Homo sapiens: one gene and its partners. The protein of the gene in region 3 purifies or fractionates together with the protein of the main gene of each other region. This does not show direct contact. Each region holds a gene or a part of one and is shown on either strand. Other genes may lie near its edges. The genes, in order: PBX1, MEIS2 and FAM222A.

Region 1 (3,652 bases), on a different chromosome or scaffold from region 3:
TCTCTACTAAAAATACAAAAATTAGCTGGGTGTTGTGGCACGTGCCTGTAATCCCAGCTACTCAAGAGGCTGAGACAGGAGAATCACTTGAACCCAGGAGGTGGAGGTTCCAGTGAGCCAAGATCACACCACTGCACTCCAGCCTGGGTGACAGAGTGAAACTCCATCTCAAAAAAACAAACCAAGATGGCCCGAATTTTGAAACTTTATACTCCTCACTACTCTGCAAAAATATCTGTGACCACTCTTCTGTTCGGTGCCCAGATGGTACACAATGAAGTATTGAGCAAATGCTTTTAGCGTTGGTTTTGGCATCCAGCCCCTTTTGGTAAATCTGCTCCAAATTCACCTTTTGCTCAAAAATTTGTCTTCTCCCAGAAGTAGATTTATTCTCTCCCATTTTATATTTATTTGGTGTGAGCCTTTTTGTTATTATTTCCTTTCTCTTTACAAAGGCGGAAGAGACGGAATTTCAACAAGCAAGCGACAGAAATCCTGAATGAATATTTCTATTCCCATCTCAGCAACCCTTACCCCAGTGAGGAAGCCAAAGAGGAGTTAGCCAAGAAGTGTGGCATCACAGTCTCCCAGGTAAGCAGCACCTCAAAAGCCTCAGCCTGTAGCCTGGCCATGGCGGGGCCTCCGGGGCAGGCTCTTAGAGGTCTTGCTTTACTGGACATTCATGCCTTGCAAGTTCCATCAGCTATAGCCTTAAAATATCAAGGTAAGCACTTGATGTGTATGCGTATAAGTGAGTTTCTAGGTAAGTACTTGGCAAAACTTGAGAAGAACCAGCAGAAGGAAGAGAAGAATAAGTAGAGTACAATGTAAAAACAGGATTAGGGTTCTTCCCATCGAGCACTCCTTTGCTTCAAATGGGTGAGGTGTCTAAAGTGTACTAGGAAAGTTATCTGCATTCCTCATGCTGTTTTTTCAAATTCAGTCAATTCCTTAGCCATTTTTTGCCCAACCCAGGAACTTTAAGAGTCAGTGAATGGAACTAGTTGTTATATAGCCTTTTAAATGAAAGAACTTAAATGTCTCCTCTTGATGTGCTGACTCTATAACTGATGGGAGTGTAGGAATTTTAACATGTCACTGCGATTACATTGGAATGGTGAACAAAATGTCACTGAATGCCCCCTTCCCCCAAAGAGCAATAACCATAACAGGTGGTGTCTGATGACTTGGAAAGATACATGACATAAAATTTTTATAGGCCTAGAGTTTTCAACACGAATATGAAGCAGAGAAGTAGGCAATAATTATGTGTACGTGTATTTTGTCCACTCAAAAGATCCACCCAAACTTCTTATTCAGTCTGAACCTCAAATACCACCACTGGTTTCTAATTGAGAACCATAGTGATAATTCTGAAATCTATCGGAGAAGGTTTTTCTTAGAATTTTGTCACATGCAGGAGAATTAAATGTACTGATATTTCCATTAAAACTGGGGAGGGGAGGGAGTAGTGAAGGCTACTGTAGCGAGAAATTTCACTTACCATTTTTCAAATGAAGTAGATGCTCTTTTATATAAACTAAGCATCTGTACCTCCTTGAATTGAATCCTGACTTCTGTTAATCCCTGCAGGGTGCTGATCCCATCAACCTGTGTTTAGCTGTACAGAATTAGGTCCAGTCAGAATATAGAGCTCCACAAAAGTATTGACAATGAAGGGACTGTCCAAGCCTTCCCAACAAACTAAGATGATTTTACAGCAGCAAATATCCTTGAAAACATTCTTTCAGATAAAGCAGAATGAATTGACTCCTTTTTAACCTGGGCCTTCCTTAGGTGCTTTGACCCAGCTGGAGGTCATTTTTAGTCTTGACAGTTCTGGGAAACGGGAACGTCAGCGGTCAAACTCAAGTAGCCTAGTTTTTTCTAGGGCTGTCACCATTCTTATCCAAATCTAAACCCCTTTTCCACAAAAAAGGGAATTAATGCTTTTTGATACTTGCTACATGTTTGAGGAATGCTTCTAGGTATGGACCACAAATATGCAGCAAATATCAAATCACTGAATTTTATCATGGAACCTTCTGCTTTTAAAATATAATTAAATTACTACTGTCTGAATTCCAAGTGTGGAATTCAGAATTTCAACTTCCTGTTGAAGGTAAAAGGAATTCTCCTGGAGGTAATTTGTAGTATAGCTGGATACAAGTTAAAATCCTGATCTGTTCCCGCAACCTTCACTTCCTTCATTATGGAAACTCAAGGTACAAATAGTGTGTCCATTAAAATCCTTATTTACATATTGTGTCACCTTTCCCTTTCCTCTGTCCATGCCAAAGTCATGCCATTCTTTCTTCCCCATCACATCTGTCTCTCCCCAAAGCAACTAAGCTACCATTGCTAAACAAGTCCAATGGAAGACAGTATAATATGATGTCATAGAAGGAGCATTAAGCAAGGAGCCTATTTTTGACAAGAGTCAACTGTGGGATCCTAGGGAACTCACTCTTTCTTTTTGGATCTTAGTTGCCCCATTTACTAATCATGGTTTGTTGGATCACATGATTTATTAAATCTTTCTCCTAATTCCCAAAGCCAGGGAATACCTCTTGGGCTGTATCATTATTGTCTTTTTTTGAAGTCACAAATTCTTTTGAAATCTACTAAAAGCTATTGATTTCCCCCATGACCCAAAACAAAGATATGTTGCCCATACACCCAAATCCATCTGAAATCCGCCTATTGACTGTATCTCCTCAGATCCCTAAAGAGCCCTTTTTCTATACCAGAGCTACTCTAAGTGTGATCCACAGAATGCAGCATCAGCATCCCCTGGGAGCCTGTTAGAAATATAAATTCTTGAGTGTCACCCTAATTCTGAATCAGAATCTTTGAGGGTGAAATCTATAATAGAAATTTGTTTTAACAACTTCCCCATGAACACTTAACTTTGAAAAGCAATGTTCTATATGCTTTATCTGAGTGATCTTTTCCATGCTCACAGCTACAAATAATACCTCCATTTGAATACCTAATGGAACTTCTCCCCTGCAGCACCAAACTCATAAATTTTACTTCCTAATGGACTTCATCATGGCTCTGCCCAGAGGTTCTTCAAAATTAACTTGTTCAAAATGTGAATCAAACTCTTCCCATAAAACCTACTATTCTTTCTGTATTTCATGTCTCATTCTGTGTCTGTTATCTATACATCCCTAGTGCCTAACGCGTATTAGGCCCTTAGTCCATGACTGTTGAGTAATTAGTTCATTCATGATAACACTCATTTTATACATTGTCCAGATCATTGTCTGTTGGACAATGCAGGAAGTCCCTGAACTGACCTAGCACCTTCCTACCAGTTCCATTGTTGTCATTTAGAAGGGTATCATTCCCACAACATGTCCCCTCTTTACCCCCTTCAGCTCATATTTTTTTTACATATAATTGGACCTCAGGTATTTCTTCTTCAAAAGTCCTCTGAAATTATCTTCATCTTTTTCCCTTTTCTTTCAGCTTGTGCAGTTATCTGAGAAAAAAAATCTCCTTACCTTTTTTCTTCTTTTCCTATCCCATAAATCAAAAAGCAACCATAATTATGACTGATTCCTATGAATAGTGAAAGTTATGTCAAGAAAAACATAAATTTCAAAGTGAAACTAGATATGCAGTGATCCTGAAATACACCCAA
Region 2 (3,652 bases), on a different chromosome or scaffold from region 3:
CTAGCTTATAAAATCACAAACGTTAATGCTCTCCCCAGCTCCAATGTTGTAATGTTTTGATGTTATTATCAAATCAGATTTAATTCCCTGGACTCCCACTCTGAACCCAGTTATTTCCAGTCCTGTTTCTTTCTCTCTCTATTGTAACTTGTTGCTCAGAGAAGTCTCTGGAGAATAATATCTGCTGCAACAATTACTCTATTGTTTCCTTGCCTTCAACTATTACACCCTTTAATTAGAGTTAGTTTGGAAGACATCACACTGTTGCTCTTTGCAAATGTAACCTTGCAACCTGGTATTTTTCCTTTCTAAAAATGAAACAAAACAACAACAACAACAACATGAGCTAAACCCTCCACCATGACCTTCGTTCTAGGTCCACGAACTGTGCGATAACTTCTGCCACCGATACATTAGCTGTTTGAAGGGGAAAATGCCCATCGACCTCGTCATTGATGAAAGAGACGGCAGCTCCAAGTCAGATCATGAAGAACTTTCAGGCTCCTCCACAAATCTCGCTGACCATGTAAGTCTGCTAGCCTTTAGCAATCTTTTAAGGCCACTGGGCAAAGCATTATTTTAACCTTGTTTTAACATCTAGCTCCACTGATTTAGTTTTCTTTTTAAATGACTCCGTCTCTTTTGGGGTCTTTTCTTCTCTTTCTTGCTTTCTCTGCCATACCCTTCATTTTCATTTCTCCTTTCTTGGACCCCCTCCTATTTATGTTGAGAGCCAAAAAACCAGAGTTGATAGAGTGATTTGTGCTCTTAATGTGTAAAGTTTTCTGGATTTGGTGACTTGGGTGTTCGCAAATTCTGTTTGATATAGTCACCACTGTGTTTTCTGCTTTCTTAATTTTGTGTAATCAGTGCAGCAGGGATAGAAAGAAGCAAGACAGTTAGCTGGACTGGTCTGGAGAGAGAGGACTGAATGAAAGAGAATTGAGTGAGTGCTGATTTCCTAGTATGTCACAGAGATGACAATTCTGAGAATTATTGGCAATCTTGCACTGCATTCGAAATAAAAGGGGTGAACAAACACATTACAATTCTCAGGGCTTTTGCTATAGAAACTTATTGTCAGAATAGGGACTTATTGCCAAATGCCTGAAGCATCTTCATAATAAAAGACAGTAACCTTGATGAACCAATTATTAACAATGTATTACAGAAAGCTGAAGGGAATTATGATTGAGTAACCATAGGTTAGTGGTTGAATTTTAACACTTTAACAGTTGGTGAATGAGGATGGAGAGTATAGTAAGAAATGACTGTGTATGTCAGGCCAGGAAAGGAGATTTCTTTCTATTCTCTCTGTTTCTAATCCTATTTTGGAACCAATCTAGTGAGTCTGATGCTAAAAAAAAAAAAAAAAAAAAAAAAAAAAAAAAAAAAAAAAAAAAAAAAAAAGCATATGTAGTGAGACTGAAAATTTGAAAAAGAAGCAAAGAGAAGAAAGATTGCAGCTGGTAGGAAAGGCAAGAGTGGCGAGGTTAAAGAGTGGGTGTGAACAGCAGTTTTATTTATAGGAACTCAAGCCTGGAAATGGGGGACAGGGTGTCTATAGATTACATTCAGTTGAACTCACAGCCTAAATAATATAAGCTGTAGTTTAATAACTTTGTGGCCGAAATATTAATTTGACACTCCGTGTGAGTTAAACAGGCATTAAGGCTTGAAGGCAGTTTGTCCCTACCTCCCATCCCAATTCCTGACTGGTATGAGAAATGAATTGGGATGCCTTAGTATAAACCTTCTATGAGGTTCTTCTCTCCCCTGCTCCAGACAAAAGTTTTGAAAATATGCAGTCATAGATTTTCATAATTAACCTTTGCACTTGTATGGGAAGCCAGCCTAAGAACAAAAGTTAGAAAAAGTCTAGAAAAGAAAACCGCAGTCTGGGATATCCAGTTCTGTGACAGAATAAATACTGCGGTGTTGAAGGCTCCTATTCTTATCTCTTTACCCTTACCTTTTTCCATCATGGTGAGGGAATCTTTGGTGATCTCCTTTGTATATTGAGTGAATGTAATGAAATCAAAAGGATGCAGCAGTGGTTATGGAAAGTTTATTTGCTGATCTGTGGCTCCACAGTGTGTTGTGGTCCATGAGGCATGACACTACCTAAGAAATATTTACATTTGTTGTTTTTTGTGTGTTTATTTTCATTGTTTTCTGTTTCTATATTTATATTTATTCACATTATTGGGAGACTGGGGAGGGATCTATTTACATGGTTTGTAAAATGAGAGGTTCACAGTTCTCGGAGCCAAAAGCTTTTCTCATGATATTTCTAGGAGTACCTACTACTTAGTTTTCTAAAACAGTTTCTTGGCAACTCTTTTTCCAGTGGATGTATACAGCTAGACCATGTTGATGTTTACATAGAAAAGATAAGATAAAATAGGCTGTTTAAAGTATTGGCTGATAGACAATATCAATTTATGAGACTATTGTAATATTTAAATATCCACTCAAGAAGGAAGTTGTACCTAAGAGGATAGTGCTTTAATAATTTATCAATCATCATCTTTGGATAAAAGAGTCAACTGTAACATTTGTTGCTCTCCTTTCAGGCCCCCAGTCAAGTAAATATGACAACTGATTTATTTTGAACCCATGAGGGCTTGCCACTTCATTGGGTGTCATAATTTAAAGCCTTTTATTTCCTAGAGATCTGAACTATAACATTTTTACTTTAGCCCCCTGCTATTTGTTTTGAAAGGAAGCAATAATTTGTTCCACCAGCACACCAAGTAGAAAACGGAGAGATTTGCCACAGACTTGTATTTTATGCAGGGACATGAGAGAAAACCTTGGAGAGTTTTCACCATTTTTGAGACTTTTGTACCATAGGTGTATTGATTGTATTCATGTCCAGGCTTCCCCCTTCAAAGCAAATCCTCTTATGCTTTTCAGCCTCTTCTACAAAGTTGCCTTCCTTCAACCCCCTAGCCAAACACAAAGTAAAAATAACAAAGAACCACTACCTGAAAAGTGGTGTGAGTGGGACATTTTCAGCATGTAAATGTGCCCAATTTGAATCTTCAGGTTTATTTTTCATTTGCTTTGATATGCATATTTAATACATTGCCCCAGGCTGGATCTCATTTGGTGAACACTGGTGCAGGGGTGATGATGAGCCACTTCAGAAAGGCCCAGACAGCGCGTTGTTTTCTTGTTTTATCTGTTGGCCCACTATTCTGATCTGAGCTTCCTCTTGGTTTTATTTGCACATGAAATGCTGAGAGCATTTCAACTTATTGGCTATGAATAATGACAGCTAAAAAAGAAGTGTAGTTTAATTTGTTGTATGCCAAGGTTTCTCTTGTGGAGGTGACAGTTTGTGACAGCTGTTTGACACCCCCAAAACACATACACCTCTACTCTTATTAAGTGGTATCCAGCTTCATTGTGTGTGTGTGTGCATACTCGTGTGTGTGCATGTTTAAGGAAGGAACATGCAAGGAGAGAGAGAAAAGCAGAGAGAAATGCATCAGAAGCAAAATATTAGGTACCAATATAGTTTCAGTATTCTTTAAAAGAATTTGAAAATGTAAATAAATAAAAGTAATAAATATAAATATCTTCAAAGCAAGTATATTGGCAGACTTAAGAATAAGTTTTATATATTATTAGTAAATCCTGTTCA
Region 3 (3,652 bases):
GGCAGCTGCCCGTGCCCTGGCAGCGAATCCTGGAGCAGACAGCTGGTGGCTGGACCTCCCTCCTCCTCCAAGGGAGGCCCCCCTCCCCACAGACTCTGGGTCATTAAGTTCTGCGTCATTAAGTCCCCATCCCCGGGAGCCTGTTCACAGCTAGTCTCGGCCTCACCCCCTGACCTCCCAGGCCTTTGTCCCCTGTGCCCTCTGCACAATAGCAGGGGCCCCCAGGGCCCCAAACAGCTGCTGCGGCTGGGATGCTGGCTTGCTGTGGGGCCAGGACTGGCCCAGGCCTGTATTCAAGCCCAGCCCACCCAGCTCTGAGGGGCTCAGCTAAGCCCCCTGCAAGCACTATGCACATGCAAGCTCACCCCACCCACAAGCCCATGAGAAAGCTGTTGAGACTCTCCTGAACAAGAGGAAACTGAGGCACAGAGGGGTAAAATAATTTCTCTGAGGACACAGCCAGTGAGAGTGCAGGTGCTCTCTCTCACCGGGTTTCAGCCCAGGTCTGCGACTCCCAAGCTCTCTGTTGGCCTCTAAGGCACTGGGATCTTAGCTGGCCCCTGCCTCTCAGATGCTTTCACTGGCTTCCCTCTTCCTCAGGGCCTCACAGCACCCTTAGCTCAGCACCCGATGCCCCCTGCACACCCTCCTAATCTCCCTTTCACCTCCACCATCTTATAAGCTCCCCCTGCCCTTCCTGGTCATGCTCCCGGGTCTCCAAACTCCCTCTGCCAGAGACACCCCCATTTACTCCATGCTGGGGAGAGCCACTCAGTCCTCAGGGCACAGAGCACAGCCCGCTTTGTCAGGAAGCCCTCCAGGACCAGCTGCAGGTTTTCCCTCCTCCAGCCCTGCTCCAGCCCTGTCTAGAATTCCAGTTAACTGCAGACTCATCTTACTCCCTCTAGAGGCTGTGGGCCATCTGATTTCTTATCACTTGACCACTGGGACACGGGCGACAGGGTGTCCTTGCTCAGTCTTTACCTAAAGCCTGGTTTTACCGAATGGAACCACGAGTGGGTGGGAAGAGGAGTGGGAAGCTGGAACCCCGCCTCTGCCTTCCCATCTCTGGCTGCCAATGAACCTCATACTTCTGCCACTCCCTGGCTGTGTGACCTCGGGCAGCAAAGTATAATACCTTCTCTGGGCCCCTGCTTCTCAGCAAAATGGGGGTGGTACCAGCATGTGCATTTCTTAGGGTTATGACGTAAACTCTGGAAGGTACTAGTCTGGTGACCTGTATCCAGGCATGATTACATGATTCCTGACTGTGACCACTGGAGTGGTCAGGGCATGAATTTGGGGTCAGAGAGACCCAGATGGTGGCTGCACATTGGCTGTGTGGTCTGGGCAGGTCGCCCCTTCCCCAGGGTCTCCGTTTCCCCATCTCTGAAGTGGCACTAACTCTGCCCACAGGGATGCAAGCCCCCCATCACAGAGACCCCATCTTTTGTTTGATGCATGCAGTAGGTACTCAGATATTTCTCAACTAAGCAATCAGGGGTCCAGGTGGAAGGAATCCATCCCTCTTCCCAGCCTCCACCCTTTCCAGAATCTCCCTCCCTACACCCAGCCCGTGCAGACTAAAATAGTCATTAGGCAGATTTCAAAAGATGTCAGTAGCTTATAATTATAGTCGACATCCTTCTGAGATAAAAGTGATTACCTTGGATGCAAATCACTTAGCAACCAATCAGGGCGGCGGGCGGCGCCCGCGGAGGTGACCGGCCGGCACCGCAGCCCTCCTCCCGCGGCCCGCAACGCACAGGCAGAGAAAGCGCCCAATAGCTCTTGACACGCAAATGGGTTAACACAATAAAGCGGCTCCGGCCGCTGCTGGGAGAGAGCAGCAATTCCCGGCCCGCGGGAGGTAATAAAGCGGCCCTTTTGTGCGCGCCTCCTCGTTCTCACCCCCGCCCCGAGCCCAGAGGAATCGCCGCCTGATTGAATTACGGTTCATGAATATGAGCTGCTTCGCTGCCTTCCTCCGGTTTGTGAGGGATGGGAAGGCAGAGGGGGCTGGAGGGAGGTTGGGGAGGGACCCCCGGCCAAGTCCCAGCCCCCGCAGAAGCTCAGAAAAGAGCCACCGGTGCTCACCATGTGGGTGGGTGGGTGGGGGCCTCAGTGGACAGAGAAGCCCCTGGCAGAGATAGCTGGTAGAGTTCGGGCCTCTCCCTGCAAATGGGGTCTTCAACCTTTGGCTCCAAGGGACTGAGTCATTCAAGGCTCCGTTCTGAGGAGGAGGTAACAGTAGCCATGACAACATGCGTTTGAGTGCTTACTGTATACTGTGTGCTGTGCTAGGCCCTCCCTGAATCCTCACCAGACCCTGCACAGTGAGTGCTATGGTCCTTCTCACAGATGAGTAAACTGGGGCTCAGAGAGGCAAAGGTACTCACCCGAGGTCACACAGCCTGCAAGCGGCGGGCTGAGAGTACGATCCAGGCCCAACCCACGCCAGAGCCTGGCACCTAATCAGGAGCCACTGCCCATCACCAGGGCGCCTCAAGTTTCTCATCAAGGGGGTTCAGCAGTCCAGCCCAGTCCCAGTTTAGTCCAGAGCAGCCCTAAGGCTCAGAAGGGACAGGGGATGGACGAGCTTACAGGAATTAGATAAGTGAGAAGGATTAGTGGGGGTGGGGCCAACCTTAAGAGAGGAGACTGCCCCCAGAACCGAGGTGGCCACTTCCACGCTTACGGGAAGAGATGTCCAGGGTTACTGTCCTTGTCAAAGGAGATCAATGGATCCTCTGCCCTGCTTAAACCTTCCCTATCCACCTAAGGCTCCAGGACACAGCCACTCACGGCTGCCCCTTTCCCCATCAGGCACGAGGGCCCACACACATCACTGGCTGCTCCAGGGCCACTCCGGCCACCCAGAACAGTCTTCTCACTCCTGTCTGGCACATTCCTATTTGTCCTCTTCATGACTCATGTGCCACCTCTCCTCTAGGGCTTTTTGACCCTCAGGCTGGGTCAGGAACCTCATCTACTAGTTTGCCCTTGCTCCATCTACATCCCAAGAAGGTCCCTGGGGCGGCCAGGGGCAGCTTCACCGCCTCCCTCCAAGCAAGCCCAGAAGGGCAGGTGACAAGGAGCGAGTTTCAAGCTACACCTTCTTTCCCCTAGTGCTGGAGAAAGGAGTCCTGGGGGTGAGGGGACCAGACAGACCACAAGGCCGGGCGGAAGTTGTTAATCTACTCAACGCTGACCTGTAGGTCATAGGAAGAGAGGATTCAAATCTGCCTTTTGGTGTGGACAAAGCATCTTGGTGGGGCCAGACTCCCCCTCCATGGCTGATAGCCTCTGATGCCTGCAGGGACCCCTGTCCAATAAGTAGGAGTGTCCCCCAAACCCCATGGGAGGAGGTGGTAAGACACAAGGACTCTGGAGCCAGGAGGGCAATTCAGGACCGAACCTCTGCAGCTGCCTGGCTGATCACCTGTAGCCCATCACTTCCTCTGTTTAAGCCTCAGTTTCATTAGCTATAAAATGGGCCACAGCGTATGAGCCACTCCAAGGAGTAACTGAGATCATGTAAAACGCCTGGCATATAGGGAGATGCTGAGAAAGCTGGCACTCCCTCCTGCTCATCGTCTGGCACGCTGAGTGCCAAGCCCAGGGAGATGAGGGAAGGGAACAGAAGGAATTG

Evidence for each region.
Region 1: the proteins of FAM222A (region 3) and PBX1 purify together in Homo sapiens (affinity purification with mass spectrometry; 2 studies listed by BioGRID and IntAct, with this or other methods). This does not show direct contact.
Region 2: the proteins of FAM222A (region 3) and MEIS2 purify together in Homo sapiens (affinity purification with mass spectrometry; 2 studies listed by BioGRID and IntAct, with this or other methods). This does not show direct contact.

Annotation. Positions count from the first base shown.
Region 1 is NC_000001.11:164,807,087-164,810,738, forward strand, and holds part of PBX1 (pre-B-cell leukemia transcription factor 1), read left to right. Parts: intron 1-455; coding exon 456-591; intron 592-3,652. UniProt on the Homo sapiens protein: Transcription factor which binds the DNA sequence 5'-TGATTGAT-3' as part of a heterodimer with HOX proteins such as HOXA1, HOXA5, HOXB7 and HOXB8. Binds to the DNA sequence 5'-TGATTGAC-3' in complex with a nuclear factor which is not a class I HOX protein.
Region 2 is NC_000015.10:37,090,455-37,094,106, reverse strand, and holds part of MEIS2 (homeobox protein Meis2), read left to right. Parts: intron 1-376; coding exon 377-526; intron 527-3,652. UniProt on the Homo sapiens protein: Involved in transcriptional regulation. Binds to HOX or PBX proteins to form dimers, or to a DNA-bound dimer of PBX and HOX proteins and thought to have a role in stabilization of the homeoprotein-DNA complex.
Region 3 is NC_000012.12:109,716,765-109,720,416, reverse strand, and holds part of FAM222A (protein FAM222A), read right to left. Parts: intron 1-3,652.